Homo sapiens: one gene and its partners. The protein of the gene in region 5 purifies or fractionates together with the protein of the main gene of each other region. This does not show direct contact. Each region holds a gene or a part of one and is shown on either strand. Other genes may lie near its edges. The genes, in order: PRRC2A, YLPM1, AMOTL1, PALS1, TNIP2, POPDC2 and PTGES3.

The links.
Region 1: the proteins of TNIP2 (region 5) and PRRC2A purify together in Homo sapiens (affinity purification with mass spectrometry, with the first as the bait; 2 studies listed by BioGRID). This does not show direct contact.
Region 2: the proteins of TNIP2 (region 5) and YLPM1 purify together in Homo sapiens (affinity purification with mass spectrometry; 2 studies listed by BioGRID, with this or other methods). This does not show direct contact.
Region 3: the proteins of TNIP2 (region 5) and AMOTL1 purify together in Homo sapiens (affinity purification with mass spectrometry, with the first as the bait; 2 studies listed by BioGRID). This does not show direct contact.
Region 4: the proteins of TNIP2 (region 5) and PALS1 purify together in Homo sapiens (affinity purification with mass spectrometry, with the first as the bait; 2 studies listed by BioGRID). This does not show direct contact.
Region 6: the proteins of TNIP2 (region 5) and POPDC2 purify together in Homo sapiens (co-immunoprecipitation; one large-scale study listed by IntAct). This does not show direct contact.
Region 7: the proteins of TNIP2 (region 5) and PTGES3 purify together in Homo sapiens (affinity purification with mass spectrometry, with the first as the bait; one large-scale study listed by BioGRID). This does not show direct contact.

Annotation. Positions count from the first base shown.
Region 1 is NC_000006.12:31,623,094-31,627,346, reverse strand, and holds part of PRRC2A (protein PRRC2A), read right to left. Parts: exon of another isoform or gene 4,137-4,253; intron 3,616-4,136; coding exon 3,438-3,615; intron 3,087-3,437; coding exon 2,987-3,086; intron 2,898-2,986; coding exon 2,825-2,897; intron 2,177-2,824; coding exon 2,033-2,176; intron 1,888-2,032; coding exon 1,736-1,887; intron 1,556-1,735; coding exon 1,476-1,555; intron 1,328-1,475; coding exon 1,185-1,327; intron 576-1,184; coding exon 485-575; intron 366-484; coding exon 149-365; intron 1-148. UniProt on the Homo sapiens protein: May play a role in the regulation of pre-mRNA splicing.
Region 2 is NC_000014.9:74,779,813-74,784,065, reverse strand, and holds part of YLPM1 (YLP motif-containing protein 1), read right to left. Parts: intron 3,662-4,253; coding exon 3,482-3,661; intron 2,733-3,481; coding exon 1,741-2,732; intron 1-1,740. UniProt on the Homo sapiens protein: Plays a role in the reduction of telomerase activity during differentiation of embryonic stem cells by binding to the core promoter of TERT and controlling its down-regulation.
Region 3 is NC_000011.10:94,799,141-94,803,393, reverse strand, and holds part of AMOTL1 (angiomotin-like protein 1), read right to left. Parts: intron 4,005-4,253; coding exon 3,083-4,004; intron 3,056-3,082; exon of another isoform or gene 1-3,055. UniProt on the Homo sapiens protein: Inhibits the Wnt/beta-catenin signaling pathway, probably by recruiting CTNNB1 to recycling endosomes and hence preventing its translocation to the nucleus.
Region 4 is NC_000014.9:67,244,172-67,248,424, reverse strand, and holds part of PALS1 (protein PALS1), read right to left. Parts: intron 1-4,253. UniProt on the Homo sapiens protein: Plays a role in tight junction biogenesis and in the establishment of cell polarity in epithelial cells.
Region 5 is NC_000004.12:2,743,707-2,747,053, reverse strand, and holds part of TNIP2 (TNFAIP3-interacting protein 2), read left to right. Parts: intron 1-1,518; coding exon 1,519-1,608; intron 1,609-2,108; coding exon 2,109-2,357; intron 2,358-2,547; coding exon 2,548-2,667; intron 2,668-3,347. UniProt on the Homo sapiens protein: Inhibits NF-kappa-B activation by blocking the interaction of RIPK1 with its downstream effector NEMO/IKBKG.
Region 6 is NC_000003.12:119,650,113-119,654,365, forward strand, and holds part of POPDC2 (popeye domain-containing protein 2), read right to left. Parts: intron 1-4,253. UniProt on the Homo sapiens protein: Important for the maintenance of cardiac function.
Region 7 is NC_000012.12:56,670,906-56,675,158, forward strand, and holds part of PTGES3 (prostaglandin E synthase 3), read right to left. Parts: intron 2,161-4,253; coding exon 2,047-2,160; intron 1,905-2,046; coding exon 1,835-1,904; intron 943-1,834; coding exon 844-942; intron 1-843. UniProt on the Homo sapiens protein: Cytosolic prostaglandin synthase that catalyzes the oxidoreduction of prostaglandin endoperoxide H2 (PGH2) to prostaglandin E2 (PGE2).

The DNA of each region.
Region 1 (4,253 bases), on a different chromosome or scaffold from region 5:
AAAAGCTTCCCAGGATGTTCTGCAGCCTGGCACTTCACACAGCCCATTTTTAGCACCCCCCTTCCTCTATATCACAACCGCTTCAATTACTCAGCTGACACCAATTTCCCACAGCTGACCCTCTCAATCCCTTATTGGAGACACTCACTGGGTAGTCCCCAGGGGGGCCCCAGTTCCCGGCGGGGCCCCGGTGAGGTGGGGGTAGGGGAGGCTTTGGGGCAGGAGGTCCCGGCTCTGTCTCTGGAGGCCGAGAGGTTTCTGCCCAGGCCGTCTTAGGAGTGGGCGGTTCGCTGTTGGGGGAGTTGCCCTTTTTGCCATCTGCTTCAGGGGGCCGTTCCTCACCAGAAGCTGATTGGGAATCCCTGCTGTGAGCAGATCAACAGTGAAATTAAAATCAGCTGCAACTAATATACTCCTCTAAGAGTATATTACCAAAATACAAACCAAGACCCCCTCCTCTTCTCCCCTGATGGCCCTAACTCACTGGCCCTCAGCACCCTCCTCATCAGAGTCTCGCCCATCTTCCTCATCGCTGAACTTGAGCTTTTCAGTGTAGTCAACCTCTTCATGGGCCCCTGAGGGGAAATATGAGTATTAGTAACCCAAGCATTCTGCCCTCCAATCTTGGGAGGTAGTCTGGAACTATGTAACAAGATGGACTACCAATGCCAATATCCTTCCCTCCGAAGTCTAGATCCACCAATGAAGTCTTGTCATTCTTACTCCTCTCACCACTTTGCAAGGACTTGGTATTCCCCATCCATCCTCCCCTACTCTTTTTTTTTTTTCCTTTTAAAAGTCTCGCTCTGTTGCCCAGGATGGAGTTCAGTGGCACGATCATAGCTCACTGTGACCTCCAACTCCTGGGCTCAACTGATCCTCCCACCACAACCTCCAGAGTAGCTGGGACCACAGATGCACAGTCCACACCCAACTAAAAAATTTTTTTTTTTTTGTAGAGGTGGGGGGTCTTGCTGTGTTGCCCAGGCTGGTCTTGAACTCCTGGCTTCAAGCGATCCTCTCACCTAACACTCCCAAAGCACTGGGATTACAGATGTGAGCCATTGGGCCTGGTCTTCCTACACTTCAATGTCTGCCTTTCACCCACATAACCCTGTATTTTTTTTTCCTCATTAGGTTTTGCCTTTCAAGATCCAAATTCTTGACCCTTAATATCCACTTACCTGCCCAACCATCATCATTCTCCTGATCCAACTGATCAAACTCTTTGAGATTATCCTCTTTGAGAATAGAGGGACGACCCACAGGCTCTACTAAGCGCATTGGTGGCCCTGAGCCTCGGGGGCCCGCCACACGGGGAAAACGGCTGTACACAAAAAAGAAAATGAAATATGGCATGTTGTATAACCACATGCGAGACTGATCCTAGACTGAGCCTCCTGGCTAGAAAACCATCTCCTCCCCCAATAAGCTTCCCCTGCCCCCAGCCACAAACCCAGACCTGGATTGCTCACCTGGGCCCATCAGGAGTGGGGTATCGGTAAGGCCCCTGGGGTCCATAGGGCGGAGGGAACGGGAGATATGGGGGATACATCTGTAAAAGGGTCCAACAGTAGCTGCTCAGAGGGACAGTCATATACCCTTCTAGCTCCTTAAGCCTGCTATCAATCATCCTCCCACCCTCCCTTCTATCTCATAGGTCAAAGACTAAGTCCTGATTCCTAGCTCTCCAGCTTCCAGTGTAATCGTTCCAAGACAAGACACCAAGACTCACGAAAGGCGGCATCATTCCGCGGTAGGGAGGGAACTGGGGTGGGCCTGAAGGCTGTAGCCCACCCCGGGGATCATGACCATGATGAAGTTTGGAGTCCGGGCCCTCCAGCTCATCAGGGCCACGCCCACCTCCGTCCCTCCAAGTTGTAGAATCTGTATTTTGGAAAAGGTAGAGAGAGGTATCAATGATTGGAGGACAAGTGAACACAGCTGAAAGTGATGGGGAGGAAGGTGAATAAGCCAGCACCTAGCTCTGAGATGCAATAGGTAATGTCTTGGCCAAAAGGCAGCCACTCACTTTGGGGGCGGAGGCTTGGTCCGGGCCCAGACGACTGTTCGGCAGACTCCCTTTCCTTGGCAGCCTTGTCCTGGTCGCCAGCCGCCTGCAGGGTCGGAAATTCCTCTCGAGAGAATCGTGACAGTAGGCTTGATGCCCTTCCACCTATTAGGATGGGGATGCAGAACAGGAGACAGAAGACATTTCCTGAGGACATGCTATAAAAGTGGAAGACTCTGGCTGGGCGCGGTGGCTCACGCCTGTAATCCCAGCACTCTGGGAGGCTGAGGCGGGCGGATCACGAGGTCAAGAGATCGAGACCATCCTGGCCAACATGTGAAACCCCATCTCTACTAAAAACACACAAAAAATTAGCTGGGTGTGTTGGCGTGTGCCTGTAGTCCCGCTACTCTGGAGGCTGAGGCAGGAAAATCGCTTGAACCCAGGAGGCAGAGGTTGCAGTGAGCCGAGATTGCGCCACTGCACTCCAGCCTGGGTGACAGAATGAGACTCCGTCTCAAAAAAAAAAAAAGTGGAAGGCTCTGACAGGTACCAGACCATCAGGTTTCCCGCCTTCAAACTCACCCCCCTACAGAATAACTGCTTATTCCCCAAGGAGGTCAGTTCTGGCACCACTACACTCCATCATATAAGACTGAGACTTAAACTTGCTCATGTGCCTCCATGAAACTGAATATGGGTGGTCCTTGATTTAGCCAAAGAGGACCAAGGTCACTTGGCTGAAAATACAGTGCAGGGTTCATGCATCCCATGGTGCCCAGACACAGCTCCCCAATTAAGTGCTGCACTCACCATCTCCATGTGCTCCATGGGTGACGCTGGCTTGTGCCCAGGACTTTACCCCGCTTGGAACCAAAGGAGTGTTCTGGGGAAGTGTTCAGAAAGATGATAAATGATGTGGGTGGGGCAGCTATGAACCATTCTTCCTCCCCACCCCTCCAGTTCTCCAGGTACCTCGGGGGCTGCTGGGGGTCGTTTCGGCTGGTTGGAGGCAGGCGTCTGTGAAGCCGGCAGTGGCTGCGATTCCGGCGGCTGAGCGGTTGAGGCATCGGAACTGAGGGGACAGAATGGGAAGGTTATTCACACCTGAGATGCCTCCCTGACTTCTCCAACTGGTGGAGACTCAGGACTGAAATCATGCCCATTGCTACCATTTACAAATATAAGGACAAATTAATTTTGTCATCCTTTGTAGGCTGTTGTCTATTTTTTCATGCTCTCTCTCCAAGACAAAAAGCTAAAGTTTAGTACCATTCCTTAGTCATTTAACAAGGAACCTGCAATAGGTAAGAAAGGGACCTCTTCGTCTCTGGCTCAGACGTGGCTGGACTAAACCAAGCCCCAATGCTCCCTGAAGTTCAAGTTAAAATACCCATCACTCTAGGTCCCCCAAGCCTCTGTCTACCTCTTGGGGTCGGACTGCTCCTGTTTGCTTGCCCATCCTGTTCCGTCTTTTGGCACTAGTGAGACATTGGGGTCATTGCCTTTGTTCTCGGCTTTCAGGCTTGGAAGGTTGGCTGGAGGTGGCATACGCCGGGCAATGGCAACTTTCCCGAGACTCTGCAGGCCATGGCGAGGGGCAACTGGAGAACAAGACGGAGAGAGGGTCGAAAATGCCTCATGTGGGAGATCTGATGGCCTCCTATCCTGGGACACATTTATACATGTTGAATATTTTATTACCTACTTCCTCCAAACTTCTCTTAGAAGGGATTCCTTCCCCTGCCCTTAATAATCTCTGAAATCGCGCTGATTGTGGTGGCTCACACTTTGCAATCCCAGCACTTTGGCAGGCCGAGGCAGGCGGATCACCTGAGGTCAGGAGTTCAAGACCAGCTTGACCAAAATGGAGAAACCCTGTCTCTACTAAAAACACAAAATTAGCCGGGTGTGGTGGCGCATGCCTGTAATCCCAGCTACTCAGGAGGCTGAGGCAGGATAATCGCTTAAACCCAGGAGGTGGAGGTTGTGGTAAGTCAAGATCACACCATTGCACTCCAGCCTGGGCAACAGGAGCTAAACTTGGTCTCAAAAAAAAAAAAAAAAAAAAAAAAATCTATGAAATCCCTATCAAGAAGGCTGAGATATGTAACATTCAATACTTTTATGTGAGATTGGTTGATCATGAGCCTGCAAGAAGCAAGCTGGCCTCAAAGTTTCCCAAATCCACATTTATTTTCCTCCAATTCTTACGTGTCCAAAGACAGGGAACCACAGACAC
Region 2 (4,253 bases), on a different chromosome or scaffold from region 5:
TGATACACATGCCAAATAAGCACTGACAGTATAGGCTTGAATCATGGCAGTAAACAGAGCTTAAATAGTACTTTTGCTTTGGGGACCCTCTAGACTCAACTGTACCTATTCTGGGGTTCTACTCACTCTGCTAAATAATCCTGACTGAGCAAGTTACGCAGTCCTCTCAGTGCCATTTTGTTAAGAGTAAATGGAGAATAATCTGCCTACTTCACAGGTTGTTGAGAAGACTTCCATGAGATAATAATGTGTGTAAAGTCTCTAGCAAGGCTTCTTGGTACACAGAGGAATTCATGTTAATTGCCCTTTCTCTTAACTTTGATTGTGGATGGAGTTTTGTGCCACACTGCTTTCAGAATTATAAGCTTGGGGAATAAAAGATATATTTTGTTTTCAAATGTTAAAATGAGGTTGAAAAAAATGATGATGTAGATCCACTGATACTGAGATGAAAATCTAAGCAATACGCAGATTGGTGGAAAAATAAGTTATAAGATAATCTACTCAGTATGATCCCATTTCTGCAACATATATTTTTAAAATGATTCTCTCCAGATGGTGGAATTAGGTGACTTTCACTTTTTTCTACACTTTTCTGTAATGTTTGAATTTTGTATAAGGAGTACCCATTTCTACTACAATTCCCAACTGAGAAAAAAACTGATTAAAGTATTTTTCTGGCTGAGCGTGGTGGCTCACACCTGTAATCCCAGCACTTTGGGAGGCCACGGCAGGCAGGGAGGCCAAGGCAGGAGGATCGCTTGAGCCCAGGAGTTTGAGACCAGCCTGGTCAACATAGGAAGATCCCCATCTCTACGAAGTATTTTTTAAAAACTGGCCAGATGTGTTGGTGCGCACCTCTGGTCCCAGCCACCTGGGAGGCTGAGGTGGGAGGACTGCTTGAACCCAGGAGGAAGAGGCTGCACTGAGCCATAATTCTATCACTGCACACTAGCCTGGGTGAAAAACCGAGACCCTGTCTCAAAAAATAATAATAATTTCCATAGAAAAGTTATCATTTAGGTCAACTTGGGGAGAAAAATCTATTTTTACAAACTTGGAAAAAATGAATTTAACAGTTTTTAGAAGGTAAAGAGAAAAAACTTACACACCAGCAATTTTTTTTCTTTCTAAATATGTTGTTCAGGATAAACAGAAGTATCTCCTTAACTGGGGAAAATATAAAGGATGTAAGCTCCATGGGGGCAGGAATTTTATGTGTTCTGCTATATTCACTGCTCTAAGTACAAGAGCAGGAACTTAAATATTTGCTGAATGGATAAAATAAAAGTCCTACTTACCTTATGCTAAATTTCACTGCCTCAAGCCAGTAGAATATTGGCTTATTCATCTTTATCTCTAACAACTAACAAATTATCTAACAAATAGTAATTGCCAATTCAATTATTTGTCAAATGAATGAAAAAGCAAACAAAAGATAAAGTTTAATATTATTTTTAAAGCTAATAAGTCAATACAAAATGATTAGCATTACTCTACAATACTACATTCATTCTGGATTATAATCTCTACATATAGGACAAAAGCAGAGACATCAAAGAAATGGGGGCATGTTACCTTTTCTAGATTACATACGTGATGTCTTAACAAGCAGACAATATAAGTACAAAGAGAGTATAAACATTGTATAAATGAAGCTTTTTATACCATCGAGAACCAAATAGCCTAAGTCAATAAAATAGCCAAACCAAAAAAAAAGAGAAAAAAAAGCAGACCTACCTTGGGCCTCTTGGACTTTCCAAGTAACTACTTCTAGGAGGATCTGGAAGCAGGCCACCTGATCTCACTGGCATGTCCTTCACTGCAGTGATTGGCTGAGATGGAGCAGCTGAAGACTCCCCAAGTCCTTGATCAGATGAGAATGAACTGTATGGCAGAGCAGACTTGCTCAAAGGAGCTTTTGAATTCACTTGTTCTGATGGACCAGCTGATTGCAACGGAGGATGGTAAGTTGTCGGTGGGGCAGAACCAAAAGACACAGGAGTAGGAAGCAGTGCTGGTCTAGGTTTCTCTGGAACTTGCGAGCTCTGTGAACTGGAGGCTGGTGGAACTGGGGCTGCTGTTAACTGAGGAGGTATCCCTTGTGGAACTCCAGGGGGAGGTATTCCTGGAGGAGGTGTAGCTGAAGACAATGGTGGGAGGGGCATGACAGGTGGAGGTGCTGTTGAAGAGAGAGATGGTGGGGGAAGAACTGGTGGTGGCCCTGCAGAAGACAGGGAAGGTGGGGGGAGAACTGGTGGTGGCCCTGCAGAAGAGAGAGAAGGAGGCATCCCTGGTGGGGGAACAGAGGTTGGTAGAGAAGGTGGCATAACAGGTGGGGGCATGCCAGGTGGTGGCACTGTAGCAGGGAGGGCAGGGGGCATCACTGGTGGTGGCAATGAAGGAGGCAACACTGGAGGGGGCATTGTAGGTAGAGGTGGAGGCATCTGAGAATATGGAACAAAAGGAGGTGGCATTGACATGTTCCCCATATACTGGTTCTTCATGTTCTGAAATGAATTGACTTTCTCCTGGAGATAGCTCTGAGTGGCTTTCATATGTCCCTGCCATGTTTTCCACTGCTTCTCATACTCCTGAAGCTGATCTTTATGAGGATAGGAATGGAGTTGTTCCTCCCATAGCTGAAACTCTCGCTCCCATTCTTGGTAAAGATGTTGAAACTGTTGCTGCTGCATCTCATAATGCCGCAGCTGCATATCTACAGACATGGTCTACAAATAAAGGGATAAAAACTATTTAAAACCATTCATATAAGATAATTAATCATAGGTTAAAATATTAATGAATCAAGGGCATTTGACGCTTTAGGAAATTAGAACACTAAAGACTTTGGGAGGCTAAGAATAAGTTCGTTAAGTTCTTTGAGTGATGATCATTCTTCTTCCTTCCTTTGGCTTAGACAACTTACTACAGAGTTGGAAAAACCAACCAAACAATAAAGCAAATACCTATCTTAGCAATAAGTATTTTTCAAGTTTTTAATATGGATAATTTCAAGAACTTGAAAAATGATCTGTTATTATAGATATACAGACACAACATTACCCCTCAAAGATACAACACAAACAAGTATCTAAGTCACTTTATCTTTTACGGTATATTTGCTTAGGTTTTTTGTGATGGCTGTTTTTGGCCTCTTTGCTTATCTGTTACTGTTGTAGTTTACAGGCAAAACACAGGTTAACCTGTAGCTATATGGTAAAAATCCCCAGCTCTTAAGACCCTTAGCAATAGTAAGCTAACATCTGGCCTGGGTTGACATGATCAGGAAACTCTACTATAACCAACCCCTCCCCAGTCCCCCAGGTAATGTGGCAGATAACTACTTGGGCACCCCTTGGGAAACAACTAATTGTCAACAGTTGGTATCTTTTGTTTTTTACACTTAAATCTTTCAAGAATAACAAATCCTTTCAATGTCTTGGGGCAACTTCCTATTGTGGACTATGGAAGCACTTGCCTGTATATGTGGTGGGGGCTGTATAATCTGCTGATACTGTTGTAGAATCTGCTGTAACTGAGTGTGCTTCTGCATTATTCCCTGATACTGGAAACCGACTCGATGCTGCTGGTGCTGCTGCCAGTGTGCTGCTGCAGCCTGCAACTGCTTTAACCTGGCATCTTCTTCTGGGTCCTCAGACTAAAGATAAAAGAGGACACATCTTTATGTAAGTCATAAAACAGCAAGCAAAAATATTTTATAAATGTATTATAAAGTCCAGAATCCCTACAACTCAGAAATATCCAACTGTCAAACACAGTATCTTCAGTTCTTTTTGGATTGAGAACAGCTATTCTATCTTTAGATAAAACACATAGCTCTATCTATACTATTATGGATACTAATACAAAGGAGTTTATAAATTCCATAGTCTTCACTGGAATAATAATCTTATTATTCCTAAATATGACAACAATTTTCCCAGTGGAAAGTGGTCCCAGGCCGGGCACCATGGCTCACACCTGTAATCCCAGAACTTTGGGAGGCCAAGGCGGGTGGATCACTTGAAGTCAGGAGTCCAAGACCAGCCTGGTCAACATGGTGAAACCCCGTCTCTACTAAAAATACAAAAATTAGCCAGGCATGGTGGCAGGTACCTGTAATCTCACCTACTTGGGAGGCTGAGGCCGGAGAATCACTTGAACCTTGGAGGCAGAGGTTGCAGTGAGCCAAGATCGCGTCACTGCACTCCAGCCTGGGCGACAGAGCAAGACTCCATCTCAAAAAAAAA
Region 3 (4,253 bases), on a different chromosome or scaffold from region 5:
GGGCCAAGGTGGGTCAAGTCAACGAGGTCAAGGCCTCATCTCCCAGAGGGTTCCCAGGAAAGGGGCCTAAAGGGCCTTATAATCACCTACCAGACATCTCCATCTTTAGGGCGCATCAGAGCAGGTGAGAGAATTTGTAAGCTATGGTGAGTCAAGAGTGATCACAAAAAACTCAAATTCTTATTCTTCTCATAAGTTCTATCACTTGTCTCTTTGGAGCTTTCTACCTCTAGGCAAAAAGGAGTGAAGTCTCAACAATGTAATGGGTTGGACCAAACTACTGAGTACTCATTACATACTGAGCCCACCAGTATGGGCACCAGCCAGGGAGATGGACTCCATGATCTCCATCAGAGGCGTCTCTTTCTAGTCCAAGAGTCTATGTGGTTGTACGTATGTACACAATGGCCTGCAGCTTCCTAAACCATCACGATCAATGACAAACAGATAACCCTTTAAGCACAAGATAATGTGTCAGTGAAATGAAAGGGGCCCTACTTGTCTTCTGGGTCACAGGCAAGTTGAACATGACACACTGCTGAGTTTCAGGTCCAATCCTTCGAGTTCAGGCCACGTTAAATGTGTCTGAAGCAGGGCTGGTGTGGATGCAATATTGTTTACCCAGTCAGCCAAGGGCTGCACCACTGGAGCCATGCTGGCTAGCCATGGCCCTGTTCACAAAGGGGCCTTGTGGCTCTGGGACCCAGCCTCAATGGCCTGTCTGTTACGTCTCCTGAGACATTTGATGCGTCATATTAACCAGCTGCCAAGCCTGGCAGTCAGCTCAAATCCCTCACACATTTCTTCTTCTTTCTAACGTCATAACTTTGAGAAAAATGACCTCCAAAAGTGTTCCCCTCCTCCCCTGACCATTTCTCCCACCTCACATCACACCTATTACCAAATGACAAAAGGCAAAGTGATCCACTGTATGCATTGCACGGTATGTACATATTACTTTACAAATAGTAAAGCAAAGAAGAGGAAGGGGATTTCATTTCAGGATAGCTTCCCCTCTATCAAGCTCTAGAGGCTGAGTTAAGTTATCAGGGAAAAGGGTGAAATATAATAAGCCAAACTCTGGTATGATGGTGGAATAACATCATGGCTTATTTTAAACAACTGTGGTAAATCACTGTGATGCAAATACCAGGGATTTGATCAAGGAGCTATAAAGGGGGAAGAAGAGCCTCCTGGATCCCATCTTGGATTCCTGGGAGGAGTCCGGTTATGCCCACTTAGGGAGAATGCGTTCTCCTGCCTGGCCAAGATCTCACAGTTGGTTATGCTGCTTCTGAGCTGGCATTCTCAGTCTAATGTGGGGAAATGTGTCAGTGCTGGGAAGCCAGTGGCAGATCAGGCCACTCTCCCTCTGCCAACCTCCAGCCTCTCCTTTTTCAGAAGATGTACAGCCAAGGTATGTCCTGCACATAGCCACTGAGGTCGCTTGGGAAAACCCTGGCTTGTTCAATTTAGAAACAGATAATAAAGCCCTTCATGAAAATGACACATCCAATAATAGGCAGTGGCCACATGTCTTTTCTGTTCATGTTCCCTGCCCCTCCTTCAATGTCAGCAACATCTAAACATTTCTGACTCCCAAAGTGTGATCTTCAGACCCAATTTCTCTCCTGAGAGTTTGATTCGTAATTCCCTTATTTCCATCATCCCTATTCCAGAATTTCTGTATCTAACCAATCCCTAAACCCTGTCAGTTCTATTTCCCTACCTCTCTTAGCACATAATGCTCCTCTATTCTCCCTGCCCAAGCTTTGGCCACCCTCACCAATTCTGATCTGGACTACTGAAAGCATCCCTGGAGCTCCTTGTGGCGTGGGGCTCCCTTTCCTCTAATTCATGCACTGCCACCAAAATCAGCTGTTAGACATCCACTTACCATCCCTACCTAAGAACACCGCTTTTCCCGATTGCTTATGGATACATTCTAAACTCCTTAATACGACACCCAGAGACCGTCATCATCAACTTCCCTGTCCAAACATACCTCAACCAAACGGGTCCCAACTTCCCTGTCCAAACATATCTCCTGTCACTTCTTACCACACCCTTGCCCACCAGTGCTCTGCATTATTGCCACTCATTCCAGACAAAAATCCTCATGACCTCTTTGTCTGAAGACACGGCACTCCCTCACACAGCACATACTGCTACTTCATCTCTACCCTACAACTCTGATTTATCCTTCAAGTTCCAACTCAAATGTCACCTCCTCTGGGAAGCTCTCTCCAGCCCCTCCAGTTGTGAGTTATACTATCCTACCTGTTACCCTAGCATCCTCGGCCCATTTCTCTCCTAGAACAGCACATTGAATGGCAATGATCTGTTCAGATGCTGGTTTCCTCCAAGACAATGCTATAGGGTCCTGAAGGGCAGGGACCCCATCTCTGAACCAGGAACAGGGCTTCAGAGTACAGCATACACTCAGTAGGTGCTGCTGAATCCATCAATCAACTGGAAGAATACAAGTGAAGGCTGTAGGAAGAATTAGGGCAAGGGAGTGAATAGATTTTGGCAGTCAGGATACTTGAGTGTAGCCCCCAGCTGCCTCAGAGTTGTGTCTATGAAATTCATTAATCTCTCCAGGCTTTAGTTTCTCATCTGTTGAGTGAGGGATGGGACTATGTGATTTCTACAGTCCCTTTAACTCCTCCATTCTAGCATTCAGACTACATTTTCCTTTAAAATCTACAATGAAAAAAGACTATAAAACCCTCTGGTAATAATATGTTCCAGGAGTTTGGACGGTCTCCACAAAGCCATTGGAAAATTGCTACTTTGCCAGGCCACTAGGCAGAGCTCCCAAGGACAGCTAACAAGTGAGGTCCCTCCCCTAAACTCATAAATCCCCAACTGCCTGCTGCTATGTTTGGAGAAAATCCCTCAGTTGCCCTCTACTCTATTTCACCCTATATATTCTGGCCACAAAGTGGTTTATTAAATATCATGCATAAGGAAAAAAGCCTGATGACAAAAACCTAATCTGCTCTGAAAATAATAAATGCTAATAACATGACTATTGAATTTTGAAAAGCCGCACGAAACGTCTGCAGTTGATAATCACCTCGTTACCCCATACTCAGGGGGTGGCTGGTACCGCAGGACGGCCACATCTGTTCTCACAGGCTGAGGAGCAGGGTAGGGCTTGACCATCTCGTGGAGCATCCCGGGGTGCTGGTCACCATAAAAAAGTCCGTGCTCCTGGGTCTTGCTGACTGGGGACATCATTTGCTTGGTCTTGAAGGGGTACTCAGGTGGAGGACCCCGAGGGTCCAGCACTTTACCTGCAGGCTGGGCAGGGGAGGGCCCCCCTCCTACTTTGAAGCCCTTTCCATTCCCCGAGCCGGGAAGGTGTTGCTTGGCCCCATTCCTCTCCAGGGACAGCTGCATGATTCTCTCGCTGAGCGAGCGGACGTGGCCCTGCTTCAGTTCCTTCAGCGCCTCGTCCTTATGCGCCTGTCCACTGTTGGCACGGTTCACAGTGGGCCTCCCCTCAGTTCGGGACTTCTGACTGGTGCCCCCTGCCATGTAGTAACCATGGCCCACCGCCCCCTGCTGCTGTTGCTGCTGCTGCTGCCCCCTGAAGAACTGCGACTGTGCTTTGGCCTCCTCGTAAGTGGGCAGTTCCTCGTTGTTCTGCTGAGGCTGCGTGGACCGGACCTGTTTCTCCATCACCGTATTGTCCACCTGGTGTTCTTGACCCTGCGGTTCTTGGCGTGCTGACTGGTAGACCATTTGTGGGTCTTCTTGAGTGAGGTTTTCCGTGGAAGAAAAGTTGTTTGTAGGATGGGCTGGTCCTGCACTCCCTGTGGCCTGGTGCTGAATGGCCAGCAAGTTCATGTTCTCGGTTGGGGTGCCATACCGCAGTTGTTCCTGGATCAGCCGCTGCAATACTGTTCCAGCTGCCGCATCCTCGGAACCTCTCATTTCCACCTCTGAGATCCTCAGGAAGTTTGGGGAGTGGAAGTTACAAAGAGGATCTTCAACTAAAAGATAAACATAGGAAAAAAGATATCAGGCAGCTCCACAGGAGATATATGTCTGTGACTATGTGGTACATAATTAACATTCTAACTACAGCAACATTTAAAAATAAGATTTCAAATGCATCATCACCTCCATTTACCTGGCAATGTCTCATGGAATTTTCTTCTCCAATTCAAAGCGAGTCTACTATTCTGCACTCCCTCTCCTCTGCTTCCTCTTAAACATTGTTCCATCCTTCAACCCCTCCC
Region 4 (4,253 bases), on a different chromosome or scaffold from region 5:
CCTTGACTCTACTGACTTCATTAAGTATTTTAGTTCACAAAATCTTATATTTGGTTTCCTTTTTTTTTTAAGAAAAGAGATCTTGTTATGTTGCTCAGCTGGACTCAAACTCCTGGGCTCAAGCGACCCTCCCACCTCAGCCTCCCAATTGGCTGGGGCTACAGGCATGTGACATTGCTCCTTCATTTTTAAGAATAAATGTTAATGTATATTAGTTTTTAAAAATCCAAAATGATTTTTGTTTAAAATAACCCCAGAGTTAGTCCCAGAAACATGCAAATATGGTTCAACATTTGAAAAATCAGTGTAATTCACCATATTAACAGATTAAAGAAAAAAGTTCACACAATCATCTCAATACATGCAGAAAAGGCATATGATAAAATTCAACATCTATTCATGATTTAAAAAACAAACCCTCAGTAACCTAGGAACAGAAGAAAACCTCCTTAACCTCCTTAACAGAATGCACAAAATGACCTACAGCTAATATCATTTTTTAAAAGTGAAAGACTGAATACTTTTCCTTTAAGAAAGTGAGCAAGAAGCCAGGCACTGTGACTCATGCCTGTAATCCCAGCACTTTGGGAGGCTGAGGTGGGCAGATCGCTTGAGCCCAGGAATTTGAGACCAGCCTGGGCAACATGGTGAAGCCCTGTCTCTACTAAAAATACAAAAAATTAGCTGGGCATAGTGGCACTTGCAGTAGGTCCCAGCTACTCAAGAGGCTGAGATGGGAGAATCAACTGAGCCCAGAAAGTCGAGGCTGCCGTGAGCAGTGCTGCGCCACTACACTTTAGCCTGGGGATAGAGTGAGACCCTATCTTAAAAAAAAAAAGTGAACAAGATAAAGATGCTACTTCTCATCTCTCCTATTCGACATCTCAGTGGAAGTCCTAACCAAGACAATACAGCAAGTTAAGGAAAAGAAATAAAAGGCATACAGACTAGAAGGAAAGAAAAGTTTTGAGCACGACTGTCTACTTAGAAAATTCCAAAAAAAATTACTAAAATAAAAAAGCTCCTAGAGCTAATAAGGGAGTTTAGCAGAAAGTCAGGATACAAAGTCAATATACAAAAATTAATTTCTATATACCATCAGTGATCAACTGGAATCTGATTTTTTTAGATTACCATTTACAATAGGACCAAAAAATTAAAATAATTAGGTATAGACTTAATAAAGTATTTGCAAGATCTGCATATTGAAAACTACAATACTCACATAAATGGAAAGAAATAGCATGTTCATAGATGAGAAGACTCAAATTATTAAGATGTCAATTATCTTCAGGTTGATCTCTAAATTAGACACAATCTCAATCAAAATCCCAACAGAATGTATAAATTATCAAGATGATTCTAAATATCATACAGAAAGCAAAGGAACTAAAAATAGTCATAACAATTTTGAAAAAGAATACAGTGGAAGAGTCACATTACCTAATGTGAAGACTTATTTTAAAGCTATAGTAGGCTGGGTGCAGTGGCTCACGCCTGTAATCCCAGCACTTTGGGAAGCCGGGGCAGGCAGATCACGAGGTCAGGAGATCAAGACCATCCTGGCCAACACGGTGAAACCCCGCCTCTACTAAAAATACAAAAATTAGCTGGGCGTGGTGGTGCGCGCTTATAATCCCAGCTACTTGGGAGGCTGAGGCAGGAGAATCACTTGAACCCAGGAGGCGGGAAGTTGCAGTGAGCTGATATCGTGCCACTGCACTCCAGCCTGGCGAGAGAGCAAGACTCCATCTCAAAAAAAAAAAAAAAAAAAACCTATAGTAGGCCAGGCTCAGTGGCTAACACCTGTAATCCTAGCACTTTTGGAGGTTGAGGTGGAAGGATCCCTTGTGCTCAGCTGCTCAAGACCAGCTTGGGCAATATAGGGAGATCTTGTCTCTACAAAAAATTTTAAAAATCGGCCTGGCATGGTGGCATGTACCTATAGTACCAGCCACTGGGGAAAGTGGGAGGATGGCTTGAGTCCTGGAGGTTGAGGCTGCAGTGAGCCATATTCACACCACTGTACTCCAGCCTGGGTGACAGAGTGAGACCCTGTCTCAAAAAATTTTTAAATAATACAGTCTGGGCAACATAGCCAAGACCTTATCTCTACAAATAAATTTAAAAATCAGCCAAGTGCGGTGGCACGCCTGTGGTCCCAGCTACTTGGGAGGATTGCTTGAACCTGGGAGGCCAAGGCTGCAGTGAGCAGAGATCACACCACTGCACTCCAGCCTGGACAGAGAGAGACCCTGTCTCTAAATAAAAAATAAAAATATAAATACAATAAAATAAAAATAAAAAATAAAAAGGATAGACAAAATAGATCAATTGAAGAGTCCATAAACAAACCCAAACAAATGCAGTCAAATAGCTTTTGACAAAGAGACAAGAGGAATACAATGGGAAAAAGATCATGTTTTAAACAAATGGTCATGGAACTGGACAAACAAATAAGTGAAACAACTTGTACTTCTCTCATTTTATACAAAAATAAACTCAAAATGGAACATAGATCTAAAAATAAAATTACAATATAAAACTTGGAAAAAAAAATTGGAGAAAAATCTCTCTGACCGTGGATTGAGCAAAGAGTTCTTAGATACAATATTCAAATTTTAAAAATTAATAATTTGGACTTTCTCAAAATATAAAATTCTATACTTCAAAAGTAATGAAGTATAGAAGTTATGAGGATGAAAAGGCAAGCCAGAGTGGAAGAAAACCTTCGTAAATCACTTATCTGACAAAGATAAAGGACTATATAAAACTTTTGGGGCAGCGGCTCATGCGTGTTATCCCACCACTTTGGGAGGCTGAGGCAGGAGAATCACTTGAGCCCAGGAGTTCTGAGACCAGCCTGGGAAACATAGTGAGACCCCATCCCTAAAGAAAAAAGGAAAAAATAATAAGATAATAATAAATTCAGCAATAAGACAATAATCCAATTTAAAAATGGGCAAAAGTTTCAGACACTTTACCAAAGATAAACAGATGGCAAATAAGCACATGAAAAGATGCTCAACATCCTCAGTCATGGGGGAAATGCAAAGAAAAATCCCAACGAGATACTACTAAAATGGCTAAATCTAAAGACTGACCATACCAAGTGCTGACAGGAATGTAAAGCAACTGACCTCTCATATATTGCTGGTGGAAATGCAAAGTGGTTCAGCCACTTCAAACCCAGCCTGACAATGTATTAGTTTCCTATGCCAATGTAACAAATTGCCACAAATTTAGTGGCTTAAAACAACAGAAATTATTTTACAGTCCTATAGGTTAGAAATCTGGCATATGTCTCCCTTGGCTAAAATTACTGGCAGGGCTGCTTTCTTTTCTGGAGCCTCTTCAAGATTCTAGACACCACTCATATTCCTTAGTTTGTGGCCTGCTCTCCTCCATCTTCAAAGCCAGCAACTTTGCACTTCTCTGACCAATTGTTACATCTTTTTTTCCTGACTCTACTCTTCTGCCTCTCTCTTTCCTTTTTTAAAGATTCTGTGATACACTGGGACCACCTGAATAATCCACAATAATCTCCCTAAAGTCATCTGATTAGCAACCTAAATAAGCCTTTGCCACTTAAGCAAACATATTCACAGGTTCCAGGGATTAGGATATCTTTGAAGACCTTTATTCTGTCTACCACAGATAGGTCTTTTTTTAATTTTAAGATAAAATTAGGCTATACCTACCATATTCCATCTACTTAAGAGAAACAAAAACTTAGGTTTACACAAAAACCTATTTGCAAAGATTTACAGCCACTTTATTCAGTCACAAAAAACCTGAAAACAACTCAAATGTCCTTCAACTGGTGAATGGATAGGTGATGGAACTGTTCTTTACCTTGATTGTGGTAGTTGCACAGCTCTCTGAGTTGGAATTGTACAATGAAAAGTTAACTTCATTTCATGTAAATTAGAGTTAAATATTTTTTAAAGAAAAGAAGCAATTATATCATTTCTCATCCACCAGATTAGCAAAAATTTTAAAATCTTACGATGCCCAGTGTGGGCAAGAATGTGAAGCCACTGTCACTCATACTGTTTGCAGGAATGTAAATGATTACAGCATTAAAAAGGGTAATTTGGCTGTAGCTAGTAATGTTGAAAACACATATCAACCTATTATCAGCAATTCCACTTATAGGTAGGTATACATACATTCTAGGAAAGCGTCCACACATGCGCTCAAGGAGACATACACAAAGATATTCATTAAACATTGTTTGAAATATTAAAAAA
Region 5 (3,347 bases):
GGCCGGGGGCAGCGGCACCAAGTGACAGTGAGGGCCAAAGAAGGGTTCGCTGGACCTCCAGGATAGGCTGGATCTGGGCTGTAGCTCTCTGTGGGGTCTAGTGGGAGAGAGAAGGACCGTGGGAGTTTCAGCATCAGGAGAAACCAGGGGGCTCCTAGGCAGAAAAGTAGGGGAGCAGTGGCCCAAGGCATCTGTGTGCCAGGCACCTTCCATCTTGCTGGTGCTTGTGGTGGTCTGTGTGTGGCAGGCAGGGGAATGGAGGCACTCCGTGCACATCTCACCTAGGCTGAGACCCCATCTCACTCGCACTGCCGGGCACAGGGCCTCTCGCTCGGGTCCTTTCTAGGCAGTTCTCTGAGGCAGCACCAAGGTTCATGCAGAAACACACGCGCTGGGATGTTCTGTGGCAGACAGTACATCCCGCACCCATCAGCAGCTTCACCGAGGCGCCCACTGGGGAGAAGGTTGGTCTGAGAACTGCCCACCTCAGCTGGGTGGATTCCAGGCGGGGAACCTCAGAGAGGACACAGCTGCATTCAGAAACCAGAGGAAAAGTGCCGTCTGGGCGGAGGCAGGGTGTTCTGGTCTGATTTTGAGTCACTGTGTCATTTCCCTCTGGGGATTTGAAAGGAGCCACACACAGTGTTGAGCCTGAGGCGGGGGTGGGGCCAGTGGCAGGGTAGGCCCTCATCACAGTCTCTAAATAAGTGTCACTTCTCAGCCCTGAACTCAGCTGAGTCACCCGGGGCTTCCCGGTGTAGGCTGTGTTAGGACGTGCACTTCCTTTGTCATTTGAGGGGAATTCTCAAAAATTATGTCACTGAGATACAGTCAGAATTGTAGGGTACACACGAGTTTCAGGAGACTTTTCATTCAGCTCTGTAGTTGTTAGTGGGGGTTGGTTTGGGTTGTGGCTTCGGTGACTCCTGACCCTGCGTGGGGCAGAGGTTAGATTCCTGTGTCCAGAATCACCTGGTTGAACCCGATTGTCTGCAGACAGGACAGTGTCATGGGCTCCAAAGGAGGTAAGCAGGGTGCATGGCCAGGCCCACCCTGGGCAGCTGGGGGCCCCCTCACTGGAGATCCTCTGGTTTACAATGGGATTCAGCTTCCTGCCTTCCCTGCTGTCTGTGATAATGGCAAATCTCTGGCAATGAGAAGACTTTATCATGTCTGGTGTGCCAATCCCTGCAGACATTATGGCTTTAGAATATTTACATTCCAAATATTTAAAAGACAAACAGCTCAAACTGGTAGGTGGGACGGGATAAGGACAGTGTGAAAGGTGGTGTGGCCTGAAGACCTCCCATCCGGGCTCTGGCCTGGGCCAGGTGGGGTGGGCCTGGGCAGGGAGAAGGTGGTCCCTTGTCCCTGCTTTGCTTCTCTACCAAATGAATGATCACTACCCGCTGCACTGGGGGACGCAGTGATAATCTGTGGCCTCAGCCTCTGGGTCTAGCTTTCTCCCCTCTTGCTGTATGTGACAGAGTGTCTTCTCTCTGTCCCTTCCTCATGCAGTCGGAACACACAGATGGGCACACCTCTGTCCAGAGTGTTATTGAGAAGTTGCAGGAAGAAAATCGACTGTTAAAACAGAAGGTGACTCACGTGAGTGTCTTTCACATTTCGTTTGAGAAGAACACATGGCTTACAAACTGTAAGTGAGGGTTCTTTCCTTGGCTGATGCCCAGAGTCGCCCCCCGCCCTCTGGCCACTAGGACTTGATACACACAGTCCCTAGAGACTGGACTTTTTTGCTTAAAACGACGTACGGGACATGTCCTGTCCATCTCCATCCCCCTAAAATTAATCCACAAGTCAGTAAAGGAGATGCAAGAGTTAGCAGCAGGAGGTCCATTTTCTAAGACAGCAAAGCTGCACCGAGTCCACCTCCGTTCATGCTGCTTGCGTACGGGTGTCATCGTGCTGCCTCAGGATTCTCTAGCGGGCCTAGTGTCTGCTCTCTACAGAACAGGGAGGGGCAGCTTCCATTTAAGAGGAAACTCTCACTCAGCGAATCACTGCTAATACATAATTCACACTGGGTGCTGGCTTGAGCAGCTTTGTCAGCTGCCTTCACCGTGAGCTTTCCGGCTCCACCTCTTCAGGTTGAAGACCTCAATGCCAAGTGGCAGCGCTACAACGCCAGCAGGGACGAATACGTGAGGGGGCTCCATGCGCAGCTCAGGGGGCTGCAGATCCCCCACGAGCCCGAGCTGATGAGGAAGGAGATCTCCCGGCTCAACAGACAGTTGGAAGAGAAAATAAATGACTGTGCCGAAGTGAAGCAGGAGCTGGCGGCCTCCAGGACGGCCCGGGATGCTGCGTTGGAGCGGGTGCAGATGCTGGAACAGCAGGTGTCTGTCCCTCGGGCTCCGGACGGCACTGACCAGATGTCTGCTGGCCGGTGGTGGCCGAAATCATGGGACAGGCTGGGCTGAAGGCTTGGTGGCACTGAGTGGGCAGTGGTCACTGTGGGGGTGGGAGAAGCCTGGTGGGGCGCTTCCTCCTTCCTTGAGCAGAAATGTGTGTCTCGCCTCTCTTCAGATTCTCGCTTACAAGGATGACTTCATGTCAGAAAGGGCCGATCGGGAACGGGCTCAAAGTAGGATTCAAGAACTGGAGGAAAAGGTCGCCTCTTTGCTGCACCAGGTGTCCTGGAGACAGGTAGAGTATGAGGGCGTTTTTCTTCCTGCTTAGGTTTAGTGTTTTTGTTTCTCTTCTCATGAGATTAGAGCCTTTCTGTGTCTGCCAAGGCCCTGATTTGCTGGTGATGAGGGTTGTGGCGAGCCCCTCCCTGCTGTGGGGAGAGCCACCTGGCCTGGTACCTGGGCGTGGTCATGGAAAGCCTCCCTGTTATACTGTTTAGTTATGGAGGAGGCTGGCATGGCGGCCTGTCTTAGCAGAGGTGGCTGTCCTCAGGGCCCGTCCGTCACTGTCATGCAGTCAGAGAGCATATCTCGGGCCTCAAAGTGTGAGCTCCCTACGTGTCCTGACCTGTCTGTGAGACGGGAACCCCGCTTACCTTGTCATGTAGATGTGATGGCCCTGGGTGTCCAGTAACATCCCCAGCTCAGCCTGGCACGTGGAGCTGGGCCTTGCAGGGCAGGGGCCCCTCACCCCACCCCTGGGCTCAGTGCTTTTCCTACCATGGGGTGCCTTGAGGGAGGCCTGGCATGAATGGGAACCGATGAAGTTCCTCAGTGTGTGACCCATGGCCTCTTCCTTCTCCTCACTGACTTGTGCTCTGCAAAAATCCAGGAGAAGTTTATGTAGCTCCTCATCAAGTACCTAACACACTTTTGGCCCTGGGAATAGCCTGGGCCCCACTCAAAGAGCTTCCTCTC
Region 6 (4,253 bases), on a different chromosome or scaffold from region 5:
ATTCCCAAACAAGAAATCAGAGTACCAAATATGAAGCACATGTGTTTGAGCAAGAACTACGCCGAATGTAAATAATGTCTTAAAGCCAAACACAAAGACTGTGAACCTTCTTAGAAATATGCTGTACTTCTTCCATCTTAAAATAAAACAAAATTTTACAAATAAAAATTCTTTTTCTCGAATTCACTTCCCTGGCTAGCTATCACTCCACTAATTTGCTTCCCTTTTTAGCAAAACTCATGAAGAAAAAAAAACCTGTTTATACTTAACTGTCTCCAATTCCTCTCTTCTCACTCTCTTAAACCAATAAGACTTTGTCCCTAGCAGTCCACAAAGACTGTTCCTGTTAAGGTCACCAATGACCTCTAAGCTGCTGAGTCTGATGGTCAGTTTTCATGGCATCCATCAATTTCCCCTTCCTCTTTGATATATCTTCTTCACTTGGTTCCCAGGATGCCATACACTCCTTGCCCAATCTCATGATTGTTCCTTTTCAAGCTCCTTTGCTGCTTCCTCCTTTCCTCTCCAACTCCTCACCACTAAAGTATCCCAGGGCTCCGCTCTTGAACCATTCCCTCTTCCATCCACACTCACTCACTTGGTGAGCTCATCCTATCCAATGGCTTTAAATATCATCTGCATACAACCAACTCCCAAATTTATGTCTCAGGCCCAGATCTCATTCCTGAATTTCAGACTTAAATATCCAGTTGCCTATGCAGCATCTCCATTCAAATGTCCACAGATGATGCAAACCTAACATCAAACACTGAACTTCCTAGTCCCCCGAAAGCAGCTCTACCTGCAGCTTTCTTTGTCTCAGTTGACAGCAGCACCACCTGTCCAGTTGCTCAGGCCAAAAGCCTTAGAGTCTTCCTTGATCTTCTCTTTCTCTCACATACTATATCCAACCCTTTAGAAAATCCTTTTGGCTGTATCTAGACAATATATGCTATGGCCCTACATGATCTTGCTACCTCGTCACCTCTCCAACTTTCTCTCCTGCTATTCCCTCCCCTTCCTCTCTCCATTCCAGGTCCACTGTCCTCCTTTCTGTGCATCAAACACACTGGCCCCACCTCAGGGCCTTTGCACTGGCTCTTTCCTCTGTCTGATATGCTTTTCCCAGATATTCACAGACCTCACCTGTCATCTCTCTCAGGTTTTTGCTCAAATGTTATCTGCTTAACAAGGATTTCCATGACCACCCTATTTAAAATTGCCACCATTTCTCCCTTGCACTACTCTAGGTTTTTTTTTTTAAACTAGCAGTGATTATCCTCTAACAAATTATATAATTTACTTATTCATTATGCCTATGGCTTTTTGTCTCCCCCATTAGAATGTAAATTGCATGAGGGGAGGGACCTTCATCTGTTCTGTTCACTGATATATTTCAAATCCTTTTAACAGTGCCTGGTATATACTAAGTTTTCAATAAATATTATTGAAGTGAATAAATGAATCAAGGGAAGACAGCCAATCTTGTATATTGCAAAACAACCTAATGTCACTTTCTTCCCCCACCCCACCGCCCCCCTGAGACGAAGTCTTGCTCTGTCACCCAGGCTGGAGTACAGCGGTGTGATCTCAGCTCACTGCAATGTCCACCTCCCGGGTTCAAGCAATTATCCTTCCTCAGCCTCCCGAGTAGCTGGGATTATAGGCACCTGCCACCACCCTGGCTAATTTTTGTATTTTCTAATAGAGATGGGGTTTCACCATGTTGGCCAGGCTGGTCTCAAACTCCTGACCTCATAATCCAACTGCCTCGGCCTCCCAAAGTGCTGGGGTTATAGGTGTGAGCCACCGCGCCCAGCCTCTAATGTTGCTTTCTCATGTCCTGTATAAAATCCTTCCCCAAAGGTCCTCCTGAAATCTGCTTCTTGATTGGTTCTCCCATATATATAGACATATCTGTTGTAACGTTTTGACAAGTATTTAGCTTTTTTTTTAATACTCATCTCAGATGTTGGTTGAATGAATTAAATGAGATAACCTATGTAAATAGGACTTAGGTCCAGTAAGATAGGATGCAAATTAGAAAAACAGTGATGATTTCTGTGTGATCCCTCCTGTGCTGTGTTCTTGGTGACTAATGAGTGTCACAGTGCCGAACACACAATGAATTCTGACTTAATTGAATTGTCGAGAGGTGTGCTGGAATGCTGATTGATTTATATTAGGTACAATGTGAATTATAATTTAGGCTGTCACTGTGGATTGCTCTCAGTCAACAAAGACTATGTAATTGCAAAAGGCAAGGACAGGATGAACTCTAACTTAAGATAACACTTGACATTTGCAAAGAGGAAATGGGACTTTACACAGCCAATAGCAAATGTGTGGCTCTCATTACTCCCAAAGGAGGTACACGCTAAAAATATAAATGGGAGGAACATGACCATACCTACATTCCAGGCTGAGAGGCCATGTGAGGTTACAGCCCTTCCTCTTGAGCGTAACTTAGGGGAGGACACCCGGCTTACCCACCACCTGTTCCTCCGTGTCAGTGTCAGAAAGAGGCCTGGTCCAGCTGGCTCAGGTCCTGACTGAGCCCTCCTGGAGGTTCTCATGTGCCTGAGAGAGTTCCTGAAGAAGGTTTCTGGACTAGTTAGGGAGGGTGTGTGGACGGAGGTCAGGGTAGGAACATGATGGAAGTGGATCTGTGGCTGGTGACCCTGGCAGTGGGATCAGGACTGCCTCTCAGGCTCCATCATCACAGAGCCAAGTGTCAGGGTGGGGGCAGAAGCAGGCCCTGCCAGGTAGCACTGCCCGGTGTGTGTCTGTTCCGGGGTTGGCTCATATGTTGGCTTGAGGGACTCCCTGATAAAAGTAGTAGGAGACACATGGAATCCAGTGTTTCCAGGTCCAGCAAACTATCCAGGCAGGGGAGTCCTTAAAAGGGTGAGTGAGTGTGTGTGCGCGTGTGTGCATGCGTGTGCATGTGTGTGTGTGTATGTGTGTGTGTAAACTCTACTCTTCTGGTGACCTTCCCATTTTAATAAAGAACAGAAATGGTAGATCCAGGCAACTTGGCTTTGTCACTTTCTAGCTGAAGACCCTGGGCAAATTACTTGATGTTTTTGGGCCTTAGTTTCCTCAGTTGTTAAATGGAGTAATAATCATATTCAACCCATAGAGTTGTTATGAGAATCAATGAGGCAATATGATACGTAGTGCCTGCCACATGCTAGCCATTCAATAAGTGAGAGCTACAAAGAAAGTGACCAAAGCCTGAGGGATTGGCAGAGATAAGAAGAGTAGGGGCCAGGCAGCCAGGAACCTGCATTGGAGCATGTATGTGAATGCCCCATGGAGTCCTCTGGGACACCAGCTGCCCAGTGGCAAACCAGTTCAGCAATTCTTTTTTTTTTTTTTTTGAGACGGAGTCTCACTCTGTCGCCCAGGCTGGAGTGCAGTGGCGCAATCTCGGCTCACTGCAAGCTCCGCCTCCCGGGTTCACGCCATTCTCCTGCCTCAGCCTCCCAAGTAGTTGGGACTACAGGTGCCCGCCACCATGCCCGGCTAATTTTTTGTATTTTTAGTAGAGACGGGATTTCATCGTGTTAGCCAGGATGGTCTCGATCTCCTGACCTCAGGATCCACCCACCTCAGCCTCCCAAAGTGCTGGGATTACAGGCGTGAGCCACCGCGCCCGGCAAGCAATTCTTTACTGAACAGCTGCTGTGCTCCAGGTACTTTCCTTTAGAGTCTGGGAACAGAGAGGGAAAAGCCTAGATTTGTACTTCAGAGTTCACTGTGCAGAAGACAGAAAGGAGACCAGATTATTAGAACAGACAGCAAGATGTGCACCAGTTAGCATAAGTAAAAGGACTAGAACAGGCACACAGGAGTGCTAGGCTGTGGGGTGGAAGCTGGTGAGGCTGTGGGGTGGAAGCAGGCTTCACAGTGGAAGTGAGGTTCCGTGGTCTCATCTAGAAGGGGAAATGCATTTCAGAGGGGAGAGTAGGGGCCAAGGCATAGAGCTGCAAAACAATGTGGTGTGTTTAGGGAAGTACTAGTGGTTCAGCATGGCTAGTATGAGCAAAAAATATGAAGGAGGGAGAGCTGGAAATGCGACTAGAGAGCACTAAAAGGTTTAAGTTACCCTATAACAAGTGTGGGTTTTTATGTTGTGGCACTAGGGTCTTCCAGAAGAGTTTAAGCATACAAGTAACATGGTCTACCCAGGGGCCAGCATCTTCCTACCCTACCTCACCTATGGCTAGGAGCCCAGGAACTCTTTTCAG
Region 7 (4,253 bases), on a different chromosome or scaffold from region 5:
AGACAGCCTGAGCAATAGTGGATCCTGTATCTGGGGAAAAAACAAAAAAACAAATTTCCTGGGCGTGGTGGCACATTCCTACAATCCTAGCTATTTGGAGAGGTGAGGTGGGTGGGAGGATCGCTTAAGCCCAGGTGGAGGCTACAGTGAGCCATGTTCACACCAGTGCACTCTGGCATGAGTGGCATGAGACTACCTAAAAAAAAAGACTAGGCTGGTGTCGTGGCTCATGCCTGTAGTCCCAGCACTTTGGGAGGCTGAGGTGGGGAGACTGCTTGAGCCCAGAAGTTCAAGACCAAGCTGGGCAACACTGTGATACCCCTTTCTACAAAAAATACAAAAATTAGCCAGGTGTTGTGGCATGCCCCTACAGTCCCAGCTACTTGGGGGACTGAGGAGGGAGGATCACTTGGAGCCTGGGAAACTGAGGCTGCAGTGAGCCAAGATCGTGCCACTGCACTCCAGCCTGGGTGACAAAGAGAGACCCTGTTTTGGGGGAAAAAAAACACTGAAAATTGTTAAACATACCTTTTGAAAACAAATTTACTAGTAAGAACTATTTTCAGTTGATTATTTTTTCACCAAGCTTTGTCCCCTCCCATGTGATAGCTGAGTAATTTATGCAAAGTCTGTCTCTTAAGTACAAAAGATTCTACACCAGTTAATAACTGATATTCTGATCACACTTCGTATTAAAACTGAGTAGACAAAAAACATGAACATGAGGCTTTATACTTAGCTGTGAAACAAAAACACAGCCATATTCCTTACATCAAATAAGTACATCTTTTATTACCTAAAATAAAAATATCAAACTTTTCAAAAAAGGAAAATGAAACCTACCTTTGCCCTTTCTTTTGTTAACCTTGGCCATGACTGGCCAGATTCTCCTTTTCGTAAACAACATAAAATTGATCTGTCCGTTCTTTTATGCTTGGAATCCTAAAAACAAAAGGACCATCATACCATTTATCTTTCCAGCATCACTACATGATAGAAAATAGCTTGTCATTTCTCACCTTTCTCATTTCTTTACCTAAATTTTCTCTGGACTCTGAAACATGCCCTTGACTACTAAAAACTTCAAACTATCCAACTGCCCCAACCCCCTTTAAGTTTCATTTAAAAAAAAATTTTTTTTTCCCTTCTATTTCCTACTGAAATAATCTGCACAACAATAAAGTTTAAAGTTTAACCTGGTACCATTTTTTTCTTTCCTGCACACGATAAACAGAATAAAACCTTAAAAACTTTAACTAAAAATGATATAACCACAGAATGGTTTAAAGATTCTATTCTTAGATAAGGGAAGCCTTGGCCGGGCGCAGTGGCTCATGCCTGTAATCCCAGCACTTTGGGAGGCCGAGGCAGGTGGAACACCTGAGGTCAGGAGTTTGAGACCAGCCTGACCAACATGGTCTTTACTAAAAACACAAAAATTAGCCAGGCATGGTGGCATGTGCCTGTAATCCCAGCTGCTCCAGAGGCTGAGGCAGGAGAATCCCTGGAACCTACGAGGCAGAGGTTGCAGTGAGCCGGGATCGCTCCATTGTACTGCAGCAGTCTCAAAGAACAAAACCAAACAAACAAAAAAACAAAACAAATAAAAAAGATGAGACGAGCCTCAAGGATACTACTCTAAGCCCAAACAGTGATAGCAAAAACAAAAAGTATGCAGAAACCAATTTTGGAGGAAATATTCTACAAAATGTAAATATACATAGTTTGCCTCACTGTTAAGAAAAACAGAACTAATGCTCATTGCTAAAAAGAATACTTGGTATGTCTGTTTCCTCACAACTAAAATTTGGATTAAAGCATAAAGACTACTTACATTTGGATCAATACAGTGAAAAAGATCAATTTCATTTAAATGCTTAAAATTATCACTTCCTCCGAGACAACTGTATAAAATAATAAAGAAAGAATTAAGCCTCTTCAAAGAGACAAAGATTAATAATAACTTCAATGAAAAGACAAGCCAGTCAAAGTTATTCAGTTGTGTGAATGACTATTTTACATCATTGGATAAAAAGCTTAACTTACCTGAATGTAAGTTTGGATTTTTCAAAATTTACATTAACATCCTTACTGTCTTCAACACAAAATTCAATGAAGACATAGTCCCTTCGATCGTACCACTTTGCAGAAGCAGGCTGCCTACAAAAGGATAAAGTAGGGAAAGTCAAGCTGGAATTCATTAACTAAACATTCACATACTAACCTTCGACACCATTATAGCATTATTTCAGGGCAGTTTGTTACAATTTTAAACAAAAACTACATTTTTACCCTAACAGCTACATTCCAAGTTAAAACCTATGGGTCTAACAAGATTTAGTTTCAGAATGATTCCAATTTCATAATAGGAAAGATTTAAAAACCAAACAATGCTTAGTAGAGTTAGCCGTTTATCTAGTCCTATCAAAAATTATGTTACTTGGCTGGGTGCAGTGGCTCACACCTGTAATCCCAGCACTTTGGGAGGCCAAGGCAGGTGGGTCACTTGAGGCCAGGAGAGCTAGAGACCAGCCTGGCCAGCACAGCGAAACCCCGACTCTACTACAAATACAAATACGGAAAAAAAAAAAAAAAAAAAAAAAAAAAGCAGGGTACGGTGGCTCACGCCTGTAATCCCAGCACTTTGGGAGGCTGAGGTGGGTGGATCACCTAAGCTCAGGAGTTCGAGACCAGCCTGACCAACATGGTGAAACCCCATCTCTACTAAAATACAAAAATTAGCCAGGCACAGTGGCAGGCGCCTGTAATCTCAGCTACTTGGGAGGCTGAGGCAGGAGCATCGCTTGAACCTGGGAGGCGGAGGTTGCAATGAGCCGAGATTGCGCCATTGCACTCCAGCCTGGCAACAGAGCGAGACTGTCTCAAAAAAAAAAAAAAAAAAAAAAAATTAGCTGGGCATGGTGATGCAGGCCTGTAGTCCCAGATACTTGAGGGATGGGACTGAGGCACAAGAATCACTTGAACCCGGGAGGTGGAGGCTGCGGTGAGCTGAGATCATGCCACTGCAATCCAGCCTGGGCAACAGAGACTCTGTCTCAAAACAAACAACAACAACAAAAAACACTGGTACATCAGAGCTTCACTTTTTACATTAAGTTCACTGAAACCAGGAGAATCAATCTCCTTTCCTCAAATTCAGCAATCTAGAATTTTATCAGTTTCCTCAAAATTAATACATTGAAGTCCTAACCCCCAGTACATCTTAAGAATGGGATTGTATTTGGAGAAAGTGTCTTTAAATGACAAGTAAATATGAGGTCTTAGGATAGACCCTAATCCAATGACTGTTGTCCTCCTATATAAAGAGATTAGCACAGAGGGAAGAAAGAAGATAGCTATCTGCAAACCAAGGAAAGGCCTCAGAAGAAACTAATCCTGCTGACACCTTCGCCTTGGATTTTCAGCCTCGTGGAAATGTGAAGAAATAAATTTCTGCTGTTTAAGCCACCCAGTGTGTGATACTTTCTTATGAAAGCCTTAGCAGGCCAGGCGCGGTGGCTCACGCCTGTAATCCCAGCACTTTGGGAGGCGAGGCAGGTGGATCACCTGAGGTCGAGAATTCGAGACCAGCCTGACCAACACGGAGAAACTCGTCTCTGCTAAAATTACAAAAAATTCAGGCGGGCACAGTGGCTCACGCCCATAATCCCAGCACTTTGGGAGGCCGAGGCAGGAGGATCACAATGTCAGGAGATTGAGACCATCCTGGCTAACACGATGAAACCCTGTCTCTACTAAAAATACAAAAAATTAGCCAGGCATGGTGGTAGGCGCCTGTAGTCCCAGCTACTCGGGAGGCTGAGACAGGAGAATGGCATGAACCCAGGAGGCGGAGCTTGCAGTGAGCTGAGATCAGGCCACCGCACCCCAGCCTGGGCAACAGAGCAAGACTCCATCTCAAAAAAAAAAAAAAAAAAAAAAAAAAAAATTCGCCAGGCGTGGTGGTGCATGCCTGTAATCTCAGCTACTCAGGAGGCTGAGTCAGGAGAATCGCTTGAACCTGGGAAGTGGAGGTTACGGTGAGCCGAGATCAGGCCATTGCACTCCAGCCTGGGCAACAAGAGTGAAACTCGGTCTCAAAAAAAAAAAAAAAAAAAAAAAGTGCTGGTTCACACCTGTAATCCCAGCACTTTGGGAGGCAGAGGCAGGCGGATCACGAGGTCAGGAGTTCGAGACCAGCCTGGCCAATATAGTAAAACCCCGTCTCTACTAAAATTGCAAAAATTAGCTGG